Homo sapiens: one gene and its partner. The protein of the gene in region 1 interacts with the protein of each later gene in a pairwise test. Each region holds a gene or a part of one and is shown in the gene's direction. Other genes may lie near its edges.

Region 1 (3,751 bases):
AGAAAATAAGAAGAGCAGGCTGGGCGCGGTGACTCACGCGTGTAATTCTAGCACTTTGGGAGGCCGAGACAGGCAGACTGCTGAAGCTCAGGAGTTCGAGACCAGCCTGAGCAACATGGTGAAACCCTGTCTCTACTAAAAATAGAAAAAATTAGCCAGGGGTAGTGGTGCGCGCCTGTAGTCCCAGCTGCTGGGGAGGCTGAGGCAGGAGAATCGCTTGAACCCAGGAGAGAGAGTTTCAGTGAGCCAAGATAGCGCCACTGCACTCCAGCCTGGGCAACAGAACGAGACTCCGTCTCAAAAAAAAAAAAAAAAAGAAAAAAGAAAAGAAGAGCAAAAGAATCTCTGCATAGTTTTATTTTTTCTTTTATTTATTTATTTGTGTGTGTGTGTGTGTGTGAGAGAGACAGAGAGAAATAGGAGAAATAGGATCTTGCTGTGTTGCCCAGGCTGGAGTGCAGTGGTGTGATTACAACTCACTGCAGGCTTGACCTCCTAGGCTCAAGCGATCCTCCCACCTCACCCTCCTGAGTAGCTGGGACTACGGGCACAGGCTACCATGCCCAGACAATTTTTTATTATTTGTAGAGACAGGGTCTCCCTACATAGCCCAGGCTGGTCTCCAATTCCCCCACTCAAGTGATCCTCTCGCCTCTCAAAGTGCTGGGATTACAGGTGTGAGCCACCATGCCTGCCCTGTTTGTTTTTTAAACAGGGATCACGCACAGATGCTGAGAGCTTTCCAGCTAAAGCCCAACAGGGAGCCCCACTGATCATCTCCCCAACCGGACGTCTCCACATGGTTCGGTGGCTTGGCCAGGCAGCAGCACAGCATGCCTCTTCCTCATGAAAAGACCCAGGCACAGGAGGGAGGCTGGCTCTAGCGACCAGAATGCTGGTGGGGAACAGGTGGTTAAGATATCTTTCCCTCTTAATATCAGTCAGCATCCCTCTCCCCACGCGGCCAGCAGGCCCAGCCCCGGGGACCTTTGTGGTGGTGAGTGGTGCCTTCCAGTATGGGGCAGGGTGGCTTCCCACCTCAAAAATTTTCCAGAGAAGATTTTAAAAGCTCTTAAGAGACAAAGTAGTAATTCAACAATTAAGGGCAATGATTCCTAAGGAGAAGCCTTCTCTTCTAGAACAGCACAGCCAAGTTCGACAGGCACAAAGAAATATCTGTAGTGACAAGAGAAGGTTCTTCAGTGGTGCCCATCAGCATGTGGAGCCGGCCACCGCCCCTGCCTCCATAGAAGGTAAGTCCATTTTCTCTTGTCTGCATGACAGAAAAAGGAGGCTGTCACCCGTGTCTCCCACTCCAAGGGCCTAAGCGGCGCACCTCTCAACCTTTCCTTTCAAGGGCTGAAAGGTTGTCCTCTTCCTCTCCCCACTCGGCCCCGATCCCCTTTTGCTCGGCACCTCTCTCCCCACTACTCGGCCCCCCTCACACCTCTTCTCCCCACCCCTCTCCCTGCTAGACCTCTCTTTCTCTGTCCCCCGCCCCTTTTTACTCCCCGCTCGACCCCTTTTCCCTCAGCCCGCTGCCGCCCAGTCCGCGGTACCTTGAGGGTCACGTCGCACAGCTTGCCCTGCCGCCGGATCTCCTCCATGACGCCGTAGCCGCGACTAGGCAACTCAGACACGGAGAAGTGCACCAGATCCTCCAGCTCCTCCGCGCCGTCCTCCACCATCTTCCCCGGCCGCTGCAACTGCGCAGGCCTCGCCGGCCGGCTAGACACTAACCAGGGCGGGGCGATAGCGCACGCCGACAGCCGCTCGGAGCGCGGAGCAGCAATCGGACGGGCCTCCGCGGCCGCCGTAGTTGAATCTCCTCGGCGCCGGAAGCCCCGCCACTCCGCTTCCTGGTTCATGTGCGGCCTTCGTTCCCTCGCTATCTCGACCTTGACTTCGCATGTGCATCCGCCGAAGTCTTTCTAGATCAATCGGCCCCATCTCTCGTCTTCCCGATTCGGCCATGACCTCACCCGTATCCTCGACGTAGGACCTCGGACTTCATTTCCGCCACCCCGACACTTCCGGAATCCCCGGAAGCGACCCGTTGCCATGGCGACTATGTACACAGCCAGGCAGCCCCGCGTGGGGAGTGCAGGTGGTTTCGGTTGCGGCAGTCGCGTCCCGGGAGCGTCGCTGCCTGGTGAACGGTGAGCAGGGGCTGCTCGCCGGTGGGAGTGGGGAGACGGGAAAAGGGTGTGCGCCCGGACTGCTGAAAGTGGCTGGGGTCCAAAAACCGCTTTATCTGGGGGTTCCCAGCTGGGTCGCTCATCTCTGAAACCCAGGCGAAGGAGGGCTCGACGTCGCGGGAGTCCTTTCAACCTGACCGCGGCTTACGGTCTTCGGAGCTAATGTTCATTGGTCCCACAAAGGGGTCCCACGTCGCGTCCAGGACATAGAGGCCGTGAGGCAGGGAGCCAGAGGTCGTCTGGACTCTTCCGTACTAGTCAGTTTTCGAACTAGAGGGGGCTTTGGGATCACCAGTCGGAGCCCTTCGTGTTACAGGTGAGGAAACCTCTCCAGAGAGGGACCGGAATGGGTCCAAAGCCCACTGCCGCCCAGGCTCCACGCGGGGGTCCGGCACATTGGGTGAGAAAAAGGAGAAAGTCTAGTTTTGCCTGCATCCTAGTCTTGTTCAGCCAAGGCCAGGTGCAGTTGGACCCAGTGTTTTGGATTCGGGTGTTGGTGCTGCCGCTACGGGTAGCTATGAGGGTTCCCCATGACAGCCCCTCATCTGGACGGGAGCACTGGAAGATAGGGACCCACCTGGTGCCTTCCACCCCACCAAACGCTCCCTTTCCTCTTGTCTAGTCTTCATGGCTGCTTGTTGCCAATTCTGTTCATTCCCACTAAAGACAAATGAGGAAACCTCGAGCGCCTTAACACAGAAGTCTCCTGGTGGCCATTCAGAGACTTGCTTTGTTATACCAGAAATATCAAAGGGTGGTTCCCCAAGGAGAGACATTCCCCACAAGGTCCTGAGGGAGAAAGGGAGGGGGCCGGGCGCCGTGGCTCACGCCTGTAATCCTAGCACTTTGGGAGGCTGAGGTGAGCGGATTGCTTGAGCTCAGGAGTTCAAGACCAGCCTGGGCAACATGGCGAAACCCTGTCTCTACGAAAAATACAAAAATTACCCGGGCGTGGTGGTGCACGCCTGTAGTCCTAGCTACTTGCGGGGCTGAGGTGGGAGGATCGCTTGAACCCAGGATGTGGAGGCTACGGTGAACCGAGATTGTTTCACTGCACTCCAGCCTAGGTGACAGAGTGAGACCCTGTCACAAAAACAAATAAACAAAAAACAAAAACAAAAACAAAAAAAGCGTGTGGTGAGGTGCTGGATGTGGATTTTTGCACCTGGAAACCAAGTGTCCTCCTGGAAGGGCTGTGGGCTTTGGTTGGAGTTGTCATGGAAGGGGAGTGACATCATATGCCCCTTGGGACTCTCTCAGTAGTGACTGAAGATAGACCCACATATGAAGATTCAGCTGCCCTCTGACTTCCAGCCATTACCATCACCAACCACCGCCATTTCCTGAATACCTACTCTGTGCTGGGCTCTGCCCTGGACATTGTGAGGGGATTCAAAAGAGATAAAAAGCACAATCCTTGCCTTCAAGCAGCTTGTAATTTAATTTTGGGAACTGAAACCCACTCAAATGAAGCGACGTAAGAATGGTAACAAGCAGTATTTCAGTAAGTGCAAGATGGCATGGGGTCCCTAAATGTTTGGGTGTTAAAGGGC
Region 2 (3,751 bases), on another chromosome or scaffold:
AGCTTGTAGTTTCAAATTATTAGTCTTCAGAATCAATTGGGTGTTTACATTCAGAATTATTTAAAGATAGATTTCTCTGTGTGCATATTATCTCACTACCTGTACTGATAGGAAGTGTCAGACACCCCAGTATGGCTTCTACTTGTGAACACAGTTTTAGGACAAAAAAAAAAAATCTTTGCAATGGAAAGCTCGGTAGGAAGGAGACAGGAGGAATTAAGGACAGTCTCTATCAATGATGTCAAAGAAGTAGTGATTGTCTTACCACCCACTCTCATAAATGTAGTACGTTGCTTTTGGAAAGCAGTTTTTACAGAATGCTATAGTGAGAACCAGGGACCTGACAAACAAGTCCACAAACTTCAGTGGTACCACAGACTGACTCTCTTTTCCTAATTTTCTTTTAGTTATCACATTATTGCTAAATAGGCAACTTCTGGCAGGCTGATTTCATCTATAAGTTCAGATAGGGAATGTGTGCTCTGCTCTGGGATGTGTACACTGCTGGGCTGGGCTCTGCCCTGCAGGAGCTTTCACGGTGTGTCCGGCAGCACACCCATCAGGTGCCGTAACTCCCAATTGTCCTGAACTACACCAAAGGATTTTAATCACCTCATGACAATTTTAGGTAGAAAACTGTGCTAATTTCACTAGAAAAGACTTTGAAAATTATTCTTTAATCTGTATTGTGGCATGCATGGTCAATATCCAATAATTTTTCTTGAAGAGTCTGTGAGCCCACCATCAGACCTTACTTGGAAATGGCGGTATTGTATTTCGGTTTCTCCGGGCACTTAACGTCAGGAAATTAAGTTCAGCTCCATTATTTTGTTGCATCTTTGAATAGTCTGTGGAGCGTTGATATCCTAATGCTCCTTATTTAAAAGTGGGTGGGAGTTGCATGGAAGAATTGGGGAGTGAGGCAGGGGACTGGAAAGGGAGCAGAGCACATAATTTTGGGGCCTTTGAAACAAGTAACAGTGACAAAAAACCTCACTCTGGAATCAGTAACCTCTCCCCCGCACCCTCCCCAACACTTTCAGGAGATGAGTATATAGAGTGGGGACCAGGAGGAAGTAACCTCTGTAACCCAGAAGTGGCTAAAGTGTTGAACTTTGAGCTTCTCTAAGGAGAGCTGGCTATCTGGCTGAGCTGCCAAGTACTCCTGTCTTTCAGAAATTGACAGCTGAAGTATTTGGTCTTGGTTTCCCACTGAAGAGGAATGTGTAGAATCACTGCAGAGCAGAAGAAATTAAATTTTGAATATTAATGCCTGATCTTTTAAGTTATCTGACTAAAAACAGAAGAGTGATCATAAGCCCAACCCTAGGTATCAGTGTATTATGGCTAGCAAGGAGTTAAGAAGCTTTGTCTATTCAGCAGTCATAATTGAATGTGTAGTTTGCAAGCCTGCCAAATTGCTAAACCTAGATTTCTCATATTAGATAATGTGTAATAAAAGACAGCTGTTGCCAGCATATGCTGTGAATTGCACACCAGTTCCTCATTCATGATTTTTGGCGCCATCACTACAACCCTTAGAAAAGGCTCTGACTGGAGGGCTGTCTGGGGAACATAGACCCCACTGGTCAGATCCTTGAATAAGGCTGCTCGCCCTAGGGAAAGCGGGGCAGGAAAGACTTTTTTTTTTTTTCAAAGTGCAAAACCCTTGATAAGACCTTAGACACACTTCATTTCACTTTAGGCAGGTAGTTTGGTGTGTGAGCTAGTTTCGAACCCTGGGAACATTCCTTTCCACATCGCCTGAGTCTGACAGCCCGGATCAAAAACAAGCAGGCTTTGTGTCAAGACGTGGCACGTGTCAGAGAATTTGACGGTACTTAATTTATTTAAATTGTTTTTTGTTTAAGTGTTAGATGCTTGAAACAGCCTCTTAGCTAATACCGAATGGAAACTAATTTGTAATTTGACTTAATCTGACTTTTGGTGTTGCTGATAACCCAAATTAGTCAGTCCACAGGAACTGAAAATCTGCTATGCTTCTCATGTTGTGCTAGACAAATATTTTCATCTTTAACTAGTCAATTAGCTAGATAGAAAGGTTAGAAGTAGAGTGGTGGGGGAAATATCTATAGAGGCTTCAGGTCTGTCCTGTGGTTTAAAAGATTTTACATTTGAATCTATCCAGAATGACTTTTGATTCAAAAGACCGATTGGATGAAATCTTGAAGTTCCTAATAGATGCACTGATTTCCGGCATACTAAAAGGGTATTTAAAATTGACAAGGCTCAAAATTTTACTAATAATTTATTAATTCTTGCCACCATTCATCCACTTAGCAGCTATGTACTAAGGCACTACTATCTTTGTTTTCTGTTAGTACTTTTTCTGCATTTCTTGTTTCGGATTGAATTTTTTTTTTTGTTCTTGTCTGTTTTCTTTCATTTAAAATTTTTTGGTTTTTAAAATTTGTACTTATTCAGTTGATATATAATCATACATACTCATGGTATACATAGTGATGTTTTGATACGTGGAATGTACAGTGATCAGATCAGAGTAATTAGCATATCCATCACCTCCCTCACACAATGATCATTTCTTCATTTTGGGACTGTTGAATATCCTCCTTCTAACTATTTGAAACTAGTACATGATATACTATTGTTAACTATAGTTAGCCTACAGTATAGAGCACTAGAACTTATTCTTCCTATCTAGCTGTAATTTTTTATCCTTTAACAAGTGTGTCCCTATCCATTTCTTCCCCCAACCCTTCCCAGCCTCTAGTATCCTCTGTTCTACTTTTTACTTCTATGAGATCAACTTTTTTTAGCTTCCACATATGAGTGAGAACATGTGGTGTTTAACTTTCTATTCCTGGCTTATCTCACTTAACATAATGTCTTCCAGTTCAATCCATGTTGCTGTGAATGACAGGATTTCATTCTTTTTTATGGCTGAATTGTATTCCATGGTGTATATATACCACATTTTCTTTATCCATTCATCTGTTGTTGGACACCTAGGCTGATGCCATCTCTTGGCTATTGTGAATAGTGCTGTAATAAACATGGGAGTGCAGATGTCTCTTCGATATAATGATTTCCTTTCCTTTGGATGAATTCCCAGTAGTGGGATTGCGGGATCATATGGTAGTTCTATTTGTAGTTGTTTGAGGGACCTCCATACTGTTCTCCATAGTGGCTGTACTAATTTACATTCCCACTAACAGTGTATGAAAGTTCCCTTTTCTCCTTATCCTCACCAGCATTTATTATTTATTGTCATTTTGATCATAGCTATCCTAACTGGTGTGAGATGATACCTCATTGTGGTTTTAATTTCCATTACCCCAATGATGAGTGATATTGAGCATTTTTTCATATATTTGTTAGCCATTTGTATGTCTTCTTTTTCTTCCTTTCTTTTTTTTTTTTCTTTTTTTTTTTGAGATGGAGTCTCACTCTGTCGCCAGGCTGGAGTGCAATGGCATGATCTCAGCTCACTGCAACCTCCGCCGCCCGGGTTGAAGCGATTCTTCCAACTCAGCTTCCCTAGTATCTGGGATTACAGGCACCTGCCATCATGCCTGGCTAATTTTTGTATTTTTGTAGAGACGGGGTTTTACCATGTTGGCCAGGCTGATCTTGAACTCCTGAGCTCAGTTGATCCACCCTCCTTGGCCTCCCAAAGTGCTGGGATTACAGGTGTGAGCCACCATGCCCAGTCTTGTATAGCTTCCTTTGAGGAACGTCTGTTCAGATCATTTGCCCATTTTTAAATTTT

Evidence for each region.
Region 2: the proteins of KIF9 (region 1) and CYTIP interact in binary tests that used the Homo sapiens proteins (3 or more experiments, as listed by UniProt).

The regions. Positions count from the first base shown.
Region 1 is NC_000003.12:47,280,903-47,284,653, reverse strand, and holds the start of KIF9 (kinesin-like protein KIF9), read left to right. Parts: upstream 1-1,854; 5' UTR 1,855-2,061; coding exon of another isoform or gene 2,062-2,159; exon of another isoform or gene 2,160-2,514; intron 2,515-3,458; exon of another isoform or gene 3,459-3,665; coding exon of another isoform or gene 3,666-3,702; intron 3,703-3,751. Other genes in the region: KLHL18 (kelch-like protein 18), read right to left, coding at 1,560-1,688. UniProt on the Homo sapiens protein: Essential for normal male fertility and for progressive motility of spermatozoa.
Region 2 is NC_000002.12:157,437,362-157,441,112, reverse strand, and holds part of CYTIP (cytohesin-interacting protein), read left to right. Parts: intron 1-21; exon of another isoform or gene 22-1,837; intron 1,838-3,751. UniProt on the Homo sapiens protein: By its binding to cytohesin-1 (CYTH1), it modifies activation of ARFs by CYTH1 and its precise function may be to sequester CYTH1 in the cytoplasm.